Regions from separate parts of the Homo sapiens genome. Here regions 2, 3 and 4 are each reported to be linked to region 1. The links are microRNA targets in miRTarBase. Many come from high-throughput screens and were not tested one by one. Region 1 holds a microRNA gene; each other region holds the end of a gene's coding sequence.

Region 1 (4,539 bases):
TTTTATACCTATGTTGTTTTTAAACTCAGTATGCACTGACCTTAATACTCAAGGGTATGCTCGGTCCAATGAGCTCTCTGGAAGTGAGGGAACACAACCAAGATCTTTGTTTGTAGGAAAGGGGTTCTCAGTGACCTAGAGTTTGCTCCTTTAGTCCCTTCATAGTCTTCTACCCTGGAGAGTAGATTATATCCCAGTTTCCAGAGATCACCCCAAAACAAGATCCAGGTCTCACTTAAACCTAAGATTCCTCCACTCAAAACTAATTTGAAGGAACAAAGTGAGGCTGTCTGCTTCTCCTTGAACCTGTGAGGCCTTAGAATCTGTGTCAATTCTTCTTCAAGTATCATAGGGATTCCACGGCTACCTGGGGTTCAGCTCGAGCCAAGGCTCTAATGATCTCAATTTATTATTGATTTGACTGTGTAATTAAGTTACTTTAATCCTTGTGCACTGAACAACCAGTGTCCTTACTGCAAGTGTTCCTGACTGGATAGAGGAGATAGTAGGGGAGCTGTTTCCTGTGCCTTTTAAGCAGACACAGGCAAAATAATTTTGGAAGATTTTGTAAACACTTAGAATATGTGTATCTGCAATATATCTTTCTGGCTGGGCCTTTGGAAATATATCAAAAGCGTCTAGCGTACTTTAGTTAATGCCTAAGCATTAACTCTGAACACAGGGATAATATTAAAAGCATTTCATTCGTATTTATGAAAAACATGTAGATTTTTTGCAGTAGATTATATTTCAGTATTCTGTAAGTGCTTGTCAGATGAAGGCAGTTTAACTGAGATGTAGTGGCACTTAATTTTTGAAAAGAAAAGAGAAAGCCCCTACCCTCATGTAAAACTAGTGACAAAAGTGTGTGCCTGACCACTTTTTAAAAGAGCACAAGGATAAGACAGGGCAGCAAAAGGTGCTATTTTAAAGTAAAAAAGAATAGCAATCTGCTATAAAGAGAAAAAAAAGAAAGCAGGGAGCAATAATGCCATCAACTAAATTAGGGCTGACACAGGGCTGGGAGGTACATAATCATCTGTTTCTCAGATACTCAGATGAGAAGTGAAACCATTCCCAGTGTTTTCAAAAATTTTAACATGTATGCTATCACTAAGATGTTTTCATAGGGAGTTTTTGTCCTATGATTTAATTCCCTGGCATTTACATTGTATTTCTTCAATTGTCTACATTTTGAAATCAAAATGTTCAAATGCTGAATGATGGTAGTCTAGACTCTCTAAACTGTCCAACAAAAGACATGGATTTTCTTCTTCCTGAGAAAAGTCTGAGTTGCTATATTATCTCATAAGCCTCATCAATAAGGATCCAATATCTGAGAGTTTTTTCTACATATAATACACTGTGTATTTGCATTCCTGAAAAGAAAAAAATGTGTTTTTATTGTTAAAATCTAGCCATATTCAGTTGTCAGCTAATGAGGAAATTCATGAGAAAGCTACATTCTCCTAAGGTATGATCCAAAAAGTACGTATGACAATAATTGAATAAGAGGTGCTAGAAAGAAGCACTTAAAGAAAGTGAAGTTGGGACATGGCAAAGTGTACTGGAAAGAGTATTGGTTAGGAGTCACAAGACTTGCTTTCTAATTCCAAATTCCAATGTTGTCAATTATTTATTAGCTACGTGTCTTTTGGAAAACCACTTCATCTTTCTGGACATAAGTTTCCTTATCTATAAGGACAGAATAATAAGCCCTTCTCTATCTCACAAGGTGTAGCAGGGATCAAATGAGGAAATAAAGATGAAAATACTATAAATTTTAAAGTGTTAGATATAGGTCTATTTCAATTATCATATATGAACAGAATACAGAAACATATACAACTTATAAATAAAAGATCATTATTCCATTTCCTAACACTTTTTTAAGAATTCAAGTGCCTGATCTAGACATAAAGGTTGTACACATTTAGGTGTGAACAGTTCCTTGTTCCCAAAAACAAAAACAAATAAACAGAGAACAAACTAAATAGATTATTACTATTCAACCACTAAAATGTAGATTAAGAATAATATTTTAATATATAGAGGAATAGTCATAATAACGAGTAAACAGCAGGTTTGAAACATGGTATGCATAGTTATTCCAAATGTACATATATATCTTTATGTAATATATATGTATTTTATATATGTACACATATATGTGTATACATATATTATGCTATATCATATATTAGGTTATATATGTATATTATGTATTTATACATATATATAAAATACGTATATATTACATGAAGATATATATGTATATTTGGAATATATGTATACATATATAATATACATATATATTACATAAAAATGTATATTTGGAATATATGTATATATATAGAGAGAGAGAGAGAAAGAAAGACAAAGACAGAGAGAGAGAGATATACACGAATTCCAGCTAGCCACTACAAGGATCTATAACAGAACATTAATATTGGTTTTCTCTTGGTTGGGGGACTTTGTAGATACCTTTTTGTATTTTCCAATTTTTCTGCAAAGAACATATATTACATTGGTAAACAGAAAATAAACATACACAAAATAACTGTTCAGAAAGAAAAGCTCAATTAGAAACTTAACATTCTTACTGAACCTGACTATAAGAGAGTTACAAAGACATTTCAATAACTACTAAAGAGACTTATCAGGATTGAGTTTCTTCATAGAAGAGGATCAGTTGAATTTTCATGAAGCATTGGGGTGGTGGGGTAAGATTCCAGGTGAAATGGCTTTGAAGTTGAGTTCCAGTCAACATTTGCCATACGGTGGTAGTCTGTGCCCTCTGTATGGGAAACCCTGCCCTGCACTCCCTTCAGTAAGAATACAGATAGAGTGCAGACCAGGGTCTCCCAACAGCAGCTGATTCAACATTCCACTCCATATTTTCTGTCTTCTGTTGTGATTCTATGTGGGAAATGGATGGCTCGTTGAGTTACCTTTTCCTTTTGAGTTATTCCACTTCAGTGATGGACACTAACTGATGAGGGTAGACTGTGGCCTTGTGGATCAGTTCGTCCCCTGTAAACAGCTGTACTTTTGGACTTTACATAAATTTTTCTTAGTCTTAAAAAAAATGACAATTTAATATATGATAGGATTTCCATAGTCTTCCAAGAATTATAGGCTTATATATATTGGCCTGAAGGCAGCATGTTATTATATGGACTGTAACGGCAAATAATATGAAGCATTTGTTAACTTAATGAACTTAACACTGTAAAATGCTGTGCATGTATTATCATTCCATTTAATCCTCTTAAGAACCCTATGAGGTCTATACTACTATTACCTCCATTTTATAGATGAGGAAACTAAAGGACAGATGGATTAATAATTCCTTTGCCCCAAATCATAAACCTTATAAGCATTTGAATTGTGTTTCAAATCCATGTAATGTCAGAGCCCTCCCTCTTAACCACTACAGGCATTTTAAAGGCAGATATTATGTATCATTTATTATGATGCTGCAGCCTGCTTAAAATCAGGATAGCAAAAGGTTGTTGCCACAGGGTAAAAAGGGGAAGAAGTGGGGGAGGGTAGTGTGTTCTATTTCAGAGATAGAGACAATGACTCCATTGTTGGTTATTTTGAGTTTAAAGAGCCATTAGTGATAGGTTAATGTGCAGCAGCCATTTGTATATATAAGCCTGGCTCTCAAGATGAAAGGTGTCTGCATATGGATGGTAACTGAAACCACAAGAATACATTTAATAATCTAGAGAACACAAGCAGAATACAAGACAACTACTGAGGCTGGAAACTGGGGGTGGGGAGGACATCAAACATTTCAGAAAAGACGAGGGAAGTGTAAAAATTAAAAGAAAAATAGTGATGGTGTAGAACAGAGAAAAAGCAGTGTTGTGAAAGCCCACAGAAGAGATGGTTTCAATGAAAAAGTTGACCAACCTGGTCAAGTGCTGTAGAAAGGAGAAATAAGGTAAGGACTGAAGGGAGAAATGGATTTTAGTTGGCAGTCACTAGCGACATTAGCAGGAGGAGTTCATGGATGGCAATGTGGGCAGAAGATAGAATGCGGAGGGCTGAATAATTAAGAATTAGATGAGAAAATAAAAGCAAAGGTGAAGCTGAATAATTTAAAAATAGGCGAGAAAATGAAGAAAGCTCTTGCCTATCAAAGGAAAGAGACAGTCTGAAAGAGAAACTTAGGAGGGACTTTTTAGGATGAGAAGTCTTGAAATGATCTGTATGCCAGTGGAAAAAAGGTAGTAGTCCAGGAGGTAGTGAAGGTACAGGACAAAGGATAATTGATGTATCTAGGTCCCCATGGCTTTGGGAAGAGATAAAATAAATGGAAAAAGAAGAGGAACTTTTCTTTTGGGAGATGGTTGTTGAACTGAATGGCTTTTAAGGCCCTTCACAATACTGATGCAATTTCATAAAGGATGGAAAAATCCTACAGTTATTGTAGTGAGTTCTGGAAAACTAGACAGAGGATGTACTCCAGTGGTATCAGGCTGGCAATACATGGCACAAAACAATGTTACAAGGCTCCAGTGTACTTCA
Region 2 (4,539 bases), not on the chromosome of region 1:
GGGAAGAAAAGAAGGAAGGAAAGAAGAAAAAAGGAAGGAAGGAAAGAAGGGAAAGAGGAAGGAATGAAGGAACAAAGGAGGGAAAAGAGGATGAAAGGAAGGAATATTTATTTAATGGAGGAAGGAATGGTTGATGCCATTAATAGATATTAATTTGTCCAGGCTATTTTGTTCTTCCCAACTGCCATATAATCTATGCTGTTAGGGTTGCCAGATTTAGCTAATAAAAATACAGGATGCCCAGTTAAATTTGAATTCTGATAAACAATGAATATTTTAAAAATATAAGTATGGCCCATGCAATATTTGGGCCAGGCTTATACTCAAAACCTATTTGTCATTTATCTGAAATACACATTTAACTGGACATCCGTTCTGTATTTTGTCTGGCAACCTTACGCGCTTTTCACCCTGAATATGTGTTTTTATCAAGCCGCCCACAACAGAAGTGGCAGCTCATTGGACTAGAATACTTTCCTGCCAACAATTTCAAGGCTAGGTGTGCTGTTAAGCTTGTACACTATATTACACAGTGATGACTATAATTTCAAGCCTTTATGCATTTCAGACTCATTGATTTGCTCTCTGTTTAATTTCTATTAGTCAAGAGCATGTGGCTTTTAAAGCTATATACAAATACATATTGAAATTGTTTTAGATTACTTATGACCTAAAATAGAGATGCACACTTAATATTTTCTAATGAAATTTTTAACGAAAAGTTGCATTTAATATTTGGCAGAGCATTTTGCAGGATTTAAGATATATCTGGTAAAGGAAAGAAAATTCAGATCAAAAGTTGTGTCTTTCAAAAAACATTGATAGGTTAAAGCTCTCATAGTTTCCAAGAAATCTTGATCATACTTTCTAAAATATCATGTCACTTTGCACAATTTGTGCTACTATGCATTACAACTAAGATTAGAGTTCCAGACAACAGTGATGTCATTTCATGACCATTTAGAAACCTTACATGCATCATTCTAAGCAATGGGCAAGGTATTGCATAAATATTGTTCTAAAAGAGGACCCCGGGGGTGGAGGCATTTTTTTCTAAGGTGACCAAAGCACCAAGAATCGACCTTTGTACAGATGGGGGAAACATTCAGGCAGATAGGAGTATTTTTACGATGAACACAAACACAGCCAGTACCTGCACCATCTTTTCTGTTTACAAAACATACATACACGCCCATGGCTTTGAGTGAGTCCCAAACACTCAAACCTGTTTTTCTGCAATCCTCTCAGAACCACAGCCTAATGGTGCTTGTAAGGATGGAGCTTTGGTTTTGTATAATGAAAACACCAATACGGTGCTTTCGAGGTCCAAATTAGATATACTCATCCTGTACAAATGCAGAGAAGTGCCAAAATGGCTATCTTATCTATGTATTTAATGGATTTGGAAGTACCTTTTGTATATGTTTTTCCAAATTATTGGTTCACCTTTGAATCCCTAGAACAGGTATCATACACTCCAGATTCTGACTGACGATGGATCAAGCTTTCTTTTCCTTACCTCTCCCTATCTACATATCAGAGTGTTTTGGCAATTATATTAATTTTCTAAAAAAGATTACAAACCTAACAGGTGGAAAAGTGGTCTTTGTTATAGTACAAATAAATATTACCTATTTGTCCTCTTCACCATGGTTTCAACCCACCACTATTGGATTTGAAATATCTTTCTTCTCTCTAAGTATTCTCTGTATGCCCCCCCTCTTTTTTTTTAAGAACCAGGAAAACATAATGGCAAGTTATTTAAGATTTAAAATGTTATGCAGCAAATAAATAGGACGCTGTTGAACCCCAAGCTCAGGTGTGAATTCAATGGATGCATTTTGGCTTTTCTTTCAATTCCGTGAGCTGAACAAATCATGCTTGGAAAGAATGAGAAGAATCTGCCAATAACACATTCAATCATCATGATAAAAACATGCAAACCAAAAAGATAGTCTTCATTTGGGTCTAGATAGCAATTAGAGTTATAGGAGGACTCCTCTCCATCAGAAGCGTAGATCGCCTCACTCAGGGGAAAGTCCCAGGTCAGATATTTTAACTTTTTATTTCATCTTGGCCATCTTCACACCCAGTAAACCCCTCTGTCTGATGTGAGGCAAGCCCAAAGCCATGCCATGTAAATACCGCTCTCTACCTGGAACTCTCCTAGTGTCCTACCTTTCTAGCTTGTTCTGAAAGTCTTCTATTTGTAAACCAATGCTCTGACAATAGGGTGTGGTGAGCGATTATATGTTATTAGTTTTTCATATTCGATCGTGAATTAAGAGCTAATTAACTAGGAGCAAATCCGTAACTTAACATGACGTCAACTGGATTGGTCAGCACAGAAGGTTTAGTTCAGGTTGGGTTCCCATCTTGGGGAATGGCCGAAGGTGGAGGACCACCTGAACACATAGGAGGGCCCTTAGTGTATGCGGGCATCATGCTGGAAGGGAGAGAAAAAGAAGTAGAGAAAACACAAATGGGCAAATGAAAGAGATTGGTTAAGACCCAGCCTTGCTTATCCTCAACATTTGAAAATGGCTGGTGAAACTAATCTGCCAAAGCATTTGACCTTGGTCTCTGCCCTGTTTCCTAAAAATGACACAAATGGTCTGGGCATGGTTGACTATATAAGGCATGGAACTTCTATGACACATGATGCACATTATCTTCAAGCTATGGGACTCCATGCACATTAACATAAGTGTACAGAAAGCCATTTGTTTCTTTATGTGAAATGAAACCTCAAGGGCACACATTGCCTCTATCTTTGTTAAAGGTGGGCTCTAATACTGGTCTATCCACAAGAAAACCAAAAGATGAAAGAAGAAAATAAGCTTCTTTTCATCTCAATGTTCTGCAAAGAAGAATATTTTTCTACCAACCTGTTAAGGGCACATGCTCATTCATAGGACACTTAATGTAGAAAATAACCAAAGGGAAGAGGTGGAAGGTGGCAATTACTAAAAGTAAGCTGCAAAAAAGCATTCATTACAAGTAACAATCATAAAGACAACTTTAAGCTATTCATGAGCTGATTAAGGAATCTCTATATAGTAACTACTTCTAGCACTCTCCAATCTTTCTTCCATTGCTCAACTTTTTGTCACTTTATAAGTCATTGGCATTGCTATGGAAAGGTGGGGTGGTGAAATGGAATGGTGACAGAAGTTAGTATCTAATAATTAAAATGAAAGATAGCCTTGGCTGGACACTGGAGCTTGCCTTGGGTAATTCAGGATTATGGATGATGAAGGCCTAAAAAAAGCAGTAGTAATCTGTGAACTTTATCTCTCTAAACCCGTTTTATTCTAGTTCCCAGCTCTAAACTAGAGGACTTAAGAGAATGATTAGGACTTAGTTTTCATGTTCTGGTCTTTCATTAAAATAAATCCTACTCCAGCAAGCTACTATCCTGCTTGGCATTGGGAGATGCTAGCTGCCTCTAAGCAGACCCATCTCCCTGTAAGAAAGCTCCTCACCAGGCTAATCGCAATGCCTCAGAGCAAACCCATACCTGCAGAGCTATTCTTCATCCACGTCTGTTACAAACTGTGAATGGTGTTCGGGTGACTTGCTGTGCGTTTTGCTTAGGTGGAGTTTTACCGCATGTTTGCTCACAAATGTCCGACAGCACAACTTACACTTGAATTTAGAGTCTGTGTCCTCTTCGGCAGCTATTGTTTCTGGAGACCTCTGAGCCGACGATACCCGGGAGATCTCTTGCTCCACCTTGCTTTGCTGGTCCACTGACAAGCGGGTCATGTCCTTCATTTGGAAACCCAGGTGAGATTCTAAGTGACTGATGTAGGTAGAAGGGGTTCTGAACTGGGAGGCACAGTCACTGCAATAAAAGATGGGGTGGCCTTTGTCCATGTTTTTCAGAAATTTTGTCCCGCCCGTTTTCCTAAGCTGGTACTTGACGTTGGCCAGCCAGTGACTGATAGTGGTCATTGAGAGTCCCGTAAACTTAGAGATTTGCATACGCTCTTGTGGGCCCAGATCAGACAGCAGGTATTTGCCCTCTGATGTCTGGAAGAGGCTCGAGGCAAACTGGGCTTGTAGAATCAGAAGATGCTGAGGATTCCAGTTGGACTGCCGGCCTTTTCTTTTATGCAAAGTTGAGACTTCACTGGAGACATCCTCAAAGCGCCTGACATCCATTTCCAGCTTCATGGGGGGGACCCTGGAGGAGGAGGCTGGCTTTGGGGTGGTGGCTTTGGGGAGGACTTTGACCATGTCGGCGATGTCAGACAGAGCGTGCTTCTGAGGTGGGGACATACAAGATTGTGCTTGCGAGGACTCGGCTTTCTTGCTTTTGGACTTGGTCAGGTCAATGGGCTGATCGCTGTTCTCAAACAGGTAGCGCCTGGACACGCTGGCTGACCTTGTGGAGGCAGGACTCAAGACCGGCTTGTCCATGACATTGAGATTCGACTTGTGGAACATGGAAATTGTGCTTGAACTTGGGCTGGAGCAGGAAGGTGAGCGCAAGGGCTCCGTGGCTTTGCCCAAGTGATTGTTCAGGACGGACTG
Region 3 (4,539 bases), not on the chromosome of region 1:
GGCGCGGCGGTCCTTGGTGACAGAGCACTGCTCTTTAACACATGCTGTAGTAATGACATGATCGCCTTCTGTCCGGGGCCTTCACTTCGAAATAGAGCACTAAGATCGGGGAGGAAAACCATGAGGATGTTGACCCCTGGCTGCTCTGTTTGCTTAAACAGCAGTTACTCACCCCGAATTACCCATAGATAGTGACCAACTGGTCTGAAATCCAGATAGAGTTGCTAATGATCAGCCCTTCCTTCACCCATTCCACTTGTTCTTAAAAATGTATCACTCAGGAAATGCTTTACAGAAAAACTGTGGCAAGACCCTTTGTTGCAGAGGAAAGACCTGCTCTAGCCCCAGAGGATGGCTCCAGCATCCACCTGGGACAGTGGAAACATTGGGCATTAAGACACTTAATAAAAAGGACACTTTAAAAAGAAGGGGGCAGGAAAGATAGAAGGCAGGAGGTGCAGGCACTCAGACAACTGCCCTCGACCCCACCCGGGATGGGCCACGGACAGGTGTCTGCATTGCCCTGAATGCAGCGCTTTTCCTACCCCAGCATAGACGGCGCCCATTTCTGCACTGTTCTAAAACCCCTTCCCTATGCGAGAATCAGTTCTAAGGGAAGGAAGCCCTCTTAGGAGAGGAGGTACTGGGCACACATCTGACAGCTCTGCCACCAGCAGGCAGGCGTCACCCAGCTCAGCACAGCCCCGAGTCCCAGGCTGCAGCCTCCTGTGCTGTTTCAGAGGGGAGGAATGGGTGTGTGGATCTCTGTAACTTCTCACAGTGAGGGAAACGGGGGTTGGATGGTGCTCTAGTGGCCGGCTTTGCCCCGCAGTGCAGTTGCCGGAAGGGAGCAGCCCTGGGATGGCCGACGTTTGTATTAGAAATGTTAGGAAATGTTCCTTCTGGCCTTTCCCAGGGGCTAGAGGGCCACGGTTCCTGACCTGTGTCCTTTCTTTGCCTTCAGGTCCACATTGGCCAACTGTATTCAACTGACAAGCTGATCATTGAGAATCGAGACATGCCCAGGACCTAGCAAGCCGGGGACCAGCCACCAGTGGCGGCCAGGGACCACCTTCAGCATCCACTCTCTGTTTGAGATGGGGGCTCCCAAAACCAGCTTACAATAGCCTTTTGCGCTGCCTGTCCTGTGGGAGCTGATAAACCAAGTCACATTTGCATTCTGTTGCAGGCTTAGTGAAAAAGGACTGCTGTCTTTCCTTGGTTCAAGTGTTAGAATGGAGAGCTGGAGTTCGTTCAGAATAGTGCTGTGTGTTACCACGTCTCCCCTGCACCCCATTCCTACCTTGTAGCTCATGACCATTGTGTATAGCATTTCTACACTTTGTTTCTTGGTCCTTGGCAATAAAAAGAATGATCTCCCTGAGCCTTTGACCCCAGATAAACCCCTCCCAATTAATGCATTTTCATTTCCTACTGATACAAGGCCTGGAGAGGGCTGTTGGGGGCCCTCAGGGAGGGTTCAACTCTGAGACGAGAACTGCCTTGGTGAAGGCAAGTTCAAGCACCACTTGAGACTGGGGGCAGCATGGAGTAGGGCAGGGCTACGGGGATACACGGTGCACCCTGCAACTTATACCTGAGCCCAGTACAACAAAGGTGACGGGTGTGTAGGTACACACCCAGAGATGGAGCACTGCAGATCAGCAACCTCAGCCCCACCTGGGAATTTGCTGGAAATGCAGGCTCAAGCCCCTCCCCACACCTGGTGAATGAGAGAGCCCCAGCCTGACCCAAGCCCAGGGCGACTCCCATACCCTGAAGCCTGGGGCATGCTGGGCAGCACCGGTGCCCAAATCTGGCTGGTGGACAGAAGCACCTGGAGAGTTGGAGAGCTTTTTAAAAAGACATCTCTCAGCACTTCCCTCTCTGCAGATTCTGACTCAGTAAGTGAGGGGTGAGGCACAGTCATTTTTCTCTATTCTGAAGCTCTCCCACTGTTTTCAATGTTTAACCAACTGGGGACCCCTGCTCTTTAAGTATATTACAGGTAATAAAGATATTGTTTGTATGCTTTTATTCTTGGAAACAGATTCATTCCAAACATAGAAAGAACATATTAAATAACTTGCTTGTCATCTGGGGAGTTTACGAGGGACCAGACCTGGCAGAGCGGTTTCTTGTTTCCCTTTGCATACAGTGCTCAGTGGATTTGGTATCTGTGGGTTAAGGTTTGGAACAGGCTCCTATAAATAGCACCGGTCCTGGAATAGCTGCAGCACTGTCACCCCCTCATTTTAACTCCGACGGTCATGGGAGTGAGTACGCACTGTCTGAGCCCGTGTTCTTCTCACCCTCATATGAGAACTCATGTCTTCCAGTCGCTTTTAGAGAGCATAGATTTGCTGCAATGATGCGTTCAAATAGATGTAACGTGTAGCCATTCTATTTGGCAGTACAACTTTTGATTTCAGGATAAAGTCTTTTTTTTTGAGATGGAGTCTCGCTCTGTCACCCAGGCTGGAGTGCAGCGGTGCGATCTTGGCTCACTGCAACCTCCACCTCCTGGGTTCAAGCCATTCTCCTGCCTCAGCCTCCCGAGTAGCTGGGATTACAGGGGCCTGCCACCACGCCCAGCTAATTTTTTGTATTTTTAATAGAGACGGGGTTTCACTATGTTGGCCAGGCTGGTCTTGAACTCCTCGGCCCCCCAAAGTGCTGGTATTACAGGCATGAACCACCACCCCCTGCCAATTTCAGGATAAAGTCCTGAGCATCTGTGAAAATAATGAAGCTCTTAGCAAGTCCCAGATCTCTTACCCTCTAACCAGTTCCTGCCTGGGAGCTGCAGTGTTAGAGCATATGCAAAGCCCTAATTGGGGGAGAGCTGTTCGGTGGACAGTGAACGGAGGTGATGTGGCAAGTATAATCACTCCCTTCAGCTGACTGTCACGGGGCAGAGCCGCCCAGCCCAGCCCTGTGTGTGGCTCTGGCTCAGGTTTTCCACCTTGCATCAGTGCAGTGGAGTTCGTGGTCACTCAGCAGTGAATGCATCCAACCACGCTACTAACGCACGGCACTGCTGATTTATACTTAATTTAAGCAACTGCTACTTGGAACCGAAGTCCAGATTTGAACCTCCGTGCTGAAGGCATCAAATTGCCGGCAAGATAACAGCTCCAGAGGAGACTTCTCCCACTCCCCCAGGTTTTACGCAATGAGGCAGTCCACCCAAACTTAACGTGGGCTGCAGGCTGTAACAGCAGGTTGCTTTTGTGTTCATTAAACTGCATGAATGGGTTTGAACATGCCCAAAGCCTTGCTAATGCAGACTTAATTTTGTAAAATTAACTATGCCTTTGGAATCTGCAGAAAGATACAAATCCGAATTCTGTGGCAGGAAACGCCACAAACAGGCCTTGGTCCTCCACCTTTCAGGTGTATATCTGGCAGGCAGAGCCTGGCACTGGGTACTCCCCAACTGAGATGACCCAATATTGATGCTAGAGCTTCGAATAAAGTGGCATTCCCATGGGGGTGACCCCTGGTGTTTCTCTAGGGAAGTATTCCACCTCCTTGACTATGCACCAACTGAGGGGAATGTGGGCAACTCCAACATCCATCATGGCCAGCCTCACAGAACTCTCTAGAACTTGTGCCTGCTTTGAAGATAGGATCCGGGCTGGGGTCTGGAGATCACTTTGCAGCACTAATATTGAGCAAATGAGAACTACTATCATTAGTTAACTTCCCAGGCAGAACTCATTGGCCGAGCAAGGCTATATCCTAGACTTTCAGAGACAGCTCTGGGCTGGGCTGGCTGTCATGACATAATAGCTGGGAGATCTTGCACGGCCAAGTACAGGGCTGTGTTGTTCTGATGGCTGTTGGAATCTGGATTTTGGAACTGAAAGAATTGGCTAGATTGCTTTAGGTATACTCCGTCCTGCTGCTAACTAAGTAGCAGTGACCTTTAACTCCCTTCATCCACAGCCTCTCCCGTTAATCTCAAGCCCCACCATACAACCCACCATCATCCAGGAGCAAAAGGGACAGGCAGAGGGTGAAGCCTACAAAGATGACAAACATCAGAGCTCACCTAGTCCAACCCTCAAATCTTCAGGTGTTAAAACAAAGAGCCTGAACATCTGCAGATCACGTACAGAGTCAGGGCCTTTCCCCTAAACCCCTTTCACTCATTCATTTATTCACTCAGTATTGACTAAGGCCACCTAGTGCCAGGTGCCAGGTGCCAGGGAGCAACCAGTGAACAAGACAGACGTACCTTCATAAAGCCTGTGTCTAGCAGGGAAATCTGAGAAGAAAATGACAAGTCTTATGAATGTTACAAAGAGGGAAATATGAGTGCTGCCAGAGCCGATGGGACGGGCCAGGGAAGGGCTCCCCAGGGGATATTTACACGTGCAAATTAATGATGAGGATTGGCTGTGTGAAGGTGGGGAGAGGAGCTCTCTAGGCAGGAGGAACAGCACATGCAAAGCCCTTAATTGGGGGAGAGGGTAGTTCCATGCAAAGAACTAAAGGGAGTCTGGGATGGTGGCAGCCAAGGAAGAGGGCTCT
Region 4 (4,539 bases), not on the chromosome of region 1:
CATGTGTTTATACAAAGGCAGAGGAATACGGTATGGAAGCACATAGCGGAAAGAGAAGCATACAGACCCCACTTGCTAATGAGAAGCTAAGTGAAGTGTCCAATAATGTGGATAAAATCACTACTGCATCAACTGGGTGAGACTTTCCAAGCCAAAGGCTACATAACCATGAAATGCTTCCCCAGTTAAAATGAGACTCCATTTCTGAGTCGTAAGTATTATGACAATATCAATAATGTAGATTTCTTTAACAGCTTCAGCCTGCCACCCCTGGACCTTGAATCACTTGCTGTTAACCTGTAAAACAGACTGTAAGGTAAAACTGGAAATTTTAGATAGGTCAAGCTTAAATTGTTTTCCCTAAATGAGATGTTTTTATGCATCGATTTAGATGTCTCAGACAGTGACCAGAATAATAACCTCAGTGCAAAATCACTATCACTCAAGTGTATTTGACAGAAGAGTTAGTATTAAATATTTTAAAGCCTTATGTAAAAATCATATCAACCTAGTGCATTTTATTGGACAGCATAAAATATACATGGATATTATAGAAGAACAAAATCTAACCTAAAAATTCAAAGCTGGCCTGCCAACTCTGGAATGATTGCCATAAAGGGAAATCCAACAACCAACTGGCATTTTAACAAAGAAGAAAATGGCTTTATTAAAAGTTTTCAATTTGTCCAAATGACAAACACTTAATGTGTATATGGACTGTATACATGTACAGAATTTATTGTTCCCATTTCATATACCCTTTTCATTAGAAGTCCCTAAAGATCATATTCAAACATTTTTCATATTTCTGAGTATGTTAAAGATCACTGTAGATCATTCTGTGTATGTTAAAGATCACTAGAGTCACACAGTGGAAATATTATATAAACATATATTTGGATAAATGGAATGTAATTTCATGTAATAAACAGAAATTACAGTACTAACCACTATGGATCATTTTTAGTCTCTTACATGAATCCTGATATAAAATTAATGATATCAAATCAAAAATGAAAAAAAAATTTCATGTTTTTAAAATATTATTTAAAATATCTTTGAATAGCGTAGAAAATAAATTTCCCAAGAAACTAAATCAAGTTTATTAAAGATTATATTTGGAAAATGAAAACAAAGAGAATGTACAAAAACAATCTCCACTCTCATACACCCACATCCACCCATAACTGCATTTATGGGTGCATGATTCAGGGTGGGGCAGAGCCACTCAAGCTCCGAGAGCCTCCAGAGACCCAGTGAAGTCACTTCCTCCACTCAAGGTGATTTTCGATCCAAAACAGCAGACACTACTACATCTTTGGAGCATGTGAAAAGGGGTTGGTGGGGAAAACTGCAGGCCTCCCCTAGAGGAAATTCAAGACTGCCTGTCCTGCCTCTGGCCAGCCTAGTGACCTCAGCCAGGGCTGCGCAGGTGTGTTTACTCACATGCAAAATACTACTTATACTGTCCTTGCACATGAAGGAGATAGCTAGGCAGGGATGCCCGCTCCACAAGCAAAGCCTGGTCACTCTCCCTCTGTGTGGTCTGTCATCCAACCAACAGGTGTCAAATTCATTCGCTTTCTTTTAGGTTTTTCTGTTTCTTTCTTTCTCTCTTTCTTCTTTTTTTTTTTTTTTTTGGAATCATCCATTCTACATTTATTGGTAGTTTTCCTAAAAGAAGATCTTCACTATTTTTTCCCATTTTATCACTTATTGTCTGTAGCACTGTGGATTCTCAGATTTTTAGTTATTTAAAGTATAACAATCAGTGCATTTGTCAAGCTTAAAAAATTAAAAATATTTTAATATAATCTAGGACTTAGTCCACATTCAAATTTTTACAATTATTGCAAGAATATTTTATGCTTTTTTTCATTCAAACCAAGATCCAATCTAGTTTTGACCCTTGCAATTGATTGTTTCATCTCTTTAATTTCTTTTAGTCTAGAAGAAAGAAGCCAATAATTTGCTTATTATGACTTTGACTTTTTGTTGTTGTTGTTTTTTGAGACAAGGTCTCTCTCTGTTGCCCAGGCTGGAGTGCAGTAGCGCGATCTCGGCTCATTGCAACCTCCGCCTCCCAGGTTCAAGCAATTTTCGTGTCTCAGCCTCTCGAGTAGCTGGGATTACAGGCATATGCCAACATACCGGGCTCATTTTTGTATTTTTTGCAGAGACGGAGTTTTGCCATGTTGGCCAGGCTGACTTTGACTTTTTGATGACTCACGAACGGTTGGTTGTATATTTTTCATTTTCTCCTAATGTTCGGGTGCACCAGATCTATTTCTTTCCCTTTCCTTTAATTTCATGCTAGAGCTTCTTTTAAGGACAATAAAAAAATACATCTTATATGATAGAAATAAGATAAATTGTCCAAAAGAGTAACACATTTTTCTCAGTGAAGTTAAGAATATGATTCCCTGAAAAATTTGTAAAATAGAAATTTAAATGGAAAACAGAAAGTGACAGGAATTCATAATAAAATCCTGATCTTAAAAAGGTACCATTGCTGTGGGTGTATTGGATATATTGGTGAATAAGACTATATAGGATTTCTTCATCTTATAGGGTTGGGCTCCAAATAAAGCTTTCCATTTTAAAGGACTGAGACCAGCCCTGCTGAAACATTAACAATTACCACCAGATATAATCTGGTAGCAACAGTTAGAACAGGCAAGTTTCTTACAGGACCTGAGACCTATGTAAGTTTGATCCAAATGAATTAGGTATATTGCTTTTGCTTTTTGAAGAAATCATATAGCTTACACTTGTAAATCTGTCATTTTTGGACATTAACTTTTTTTTTTTTTTTTTTTTTTTTTTTCTGAGATGTAGTTTCACTCTGTCGCCCAGGCTGGAGTGCAGTGGCACAATCTTGGCTCACTGCCGCCTCCGTCTCCTGGGTTCAAGTGCTTCTCCTGCTGAGTAGTTGGGATTACAGTCATGCACCACCACACCTGGCTTATTTTTGTATTTTTAGTAGAAACAGGGTCTCACTATGTTAGCCAGGCTGGTCTTAAACTCCTGACCTCAAATGATATGCCTGCCTTGGACTCCCAAAGTGCTGGGATTACAGGCATGAACCACTGTGACCAGCCCGGACATTAACTCACGATGGCAGGGTTATTGTCCTTCCTCTATGCAAACAATTCCCACCAGCATCACAGAGATTCAGGAGAAACAGATTCTGCATAGCAGGAGAAGAGGTATGGCTTTTGAGGCAGGGCCAATGAGTTGTCCATCCTGGTCCCACCACTACCCAACTGCAACCTTGGATAGGTAACTTTATGTCTGAGCCCCAGAAAGGTTGTAAATTAAAAATGTCACAGCTTCTCCACATGGTTATTGTGAGAACTAAATCGGCTAGTAAAGCCCCTGACTTAAAATAGATACCTCCCAATATTATCTCCCACTCCCATTTCCCAATCTAACTCATGCAATCTGGTGGAATTCTTCTGGATCCTAAAATGCTAGTAAATGAAATAATAGGCGTTTTTAATGCTGAACGTTTATCTAAGGCTGACACTTTTGAGATCGTTTTTGCAAGTGATGCATTCTCACTATATCATCAAAGCATAAAATATTCACAAACTGATCAAATCTCAAAGACATGAGGAATTTGTGAAATTGGGAATTGTGTGCCATGTCTTATGGCCACCTCTCTCAAGAGATACAGTGTTCAATGAAGAAGCTGTAAATGGCCTTGTGGGTGCCTCTCTTGCCCAGTAGTCACATCTTTGAGGCAGGCACAGGTAACAAAGTGATGCTGATGTGAATGGACCAATCTTTCAAGACACTTGATGATTTCATAATCAGGAAGAGCAAGGCTGGTCACGTTCAAGCCTAGCATCTGCGACACCACCTCCCTGAAGTCTGCCAGCTGCAATATCAAACAGAAACTCATTAACTGGGAGAACAAAATGTATCAACTACTGCTGAGCCAAATGCAACAAACAAAAAACCTGTAGAAAACCCAGGTTTGCATGAGGTAGGGAAATTATCTACTCTCTTCCTAGTTCTCTCACTTATAAAATACCAGATTCCAGATAAGTCACATCAACTGCCAACCTTCAGAGATTTCACAATCACTTTTCTGATGAGCCAACTGATGTGGTATTGGCTACTAAGTCAAGAATCCAAGTTAAGTAACCATGAATGAGACCCAGACCTCACTAAGCCTTCATTTTCTCATCTCCAGGTTGGGATTAACCATACACCTACGTCGAAGGGCTGCCCTGAAATTCAGATCACATGAAATGGTGACTGTGTGTGTGCTCTGCATACTAGGAAGAACTAAACAAATGTTGGTGGGGTTGTGCCCATGGATGGTAAACATGCTTTGGGATTTTAGCTGGCTGATAACCTCTTACACTAAAAAAAAAAAAAAAAAAAAAAAAAAAAAAAAAAAAAAAAAAAAAGAACAAACAGCAAGAAAGTATAAGCTAATGAAAACAGGAGGACTTCTAAATTACTATCAAGTCATGTCACACAGATTGCCATTTCACAAGCCATATTCCATGGGACTGCTCTGGGACT

The links. The annotated mature microRNA hsa-miR-504-3p reads GGGAGUGCAGGGCAGGGUUUC and lies in region 1 at 2,806-2,826, opposite strand. An mRNA with a match to its seed (bases 2 to 7 or 8) in the 3' UTR can be bound and repressed. Matches are read on the target gene's strand: a 7mer-m8 pairs with bases 2 to 8, a 7mer-A1 pairs with bases 2 to 7 and ends in A, and an 8mer does both.
Region 2: the mRNA of TSHZ2 is a reported target of hsa-miR-504-3p. The part of its 3' UTR that is shown has no 7-base or 8-base seed match.
Region 3: miRTarBase lists LYRM4 as a target of hsa-miR-504-3p. The part of its 3' UTR that is shown has no 7-base or 8-base seed match.
Region 4: miRTarBase lists CCDC170 as a target of hsa-miR-504-3p. Seed matches in the 3' UTR shown: 8mer at 2,859-2,866 and 8mer at 2,040-2,047.

Annotation. Positions count from the first base shown.
Region 1 is chrX:138,664,919-138,669,457 of GRCh38, forward strand. MIR504 (microRNA 504) reads right to left here and starts at 2,875; the gene lies at 2,793-2,875. The region is part of intron 3 of FGF13 (fibroblast growth factor 13); the gene reads right to left.
Region 2 is chr20:53,255,553-53,260,091 of GRCh38, reverse strand. It overlaps TSHZ2 (teashirt zinc finger homeobox 2), which reads right to left. Exons shown (of 3, transcript NM_173485.6): 2 at 3,521-4,539. The coding sequence ends at 3,529. Among named protein-coding and RNA genes, the nearest start is that of TSHZ2-AS1, 250 kb to the left of the region's middle.
Region 3 is chr6:5,105,917-5,110,455 of GRCh38, reverse strand. It overlaps LYRM4 (LYR motif containing 4), which reads left to right. Exons shown (of 3, transcript NM_020408.6): 3 at 965-2,037. The coding sequence ends at 1,033. All of the region lies in intron 3 of LYRM4-AS1 (LYRM4 antisense RNA 1), which reads right to left. Among named protein-coding and RNA genes, the nearest start is that of PPP1R3G, 23 kb to the right of the region's middle.
Region 4 is chr6:151,617,291-151,621,829 of GRCh38, reverse strand. CCDC170 (coiled-coil domain containing 170) reads right to left here. Exons shown (of 11, transcript NM_025059.4): 11 at 637-3,883. The coding sequence ends at 3,683. Among named protein-coding and RNA genes, the nearest start is that of CCDC170, 130 kb to the right of the region's middle.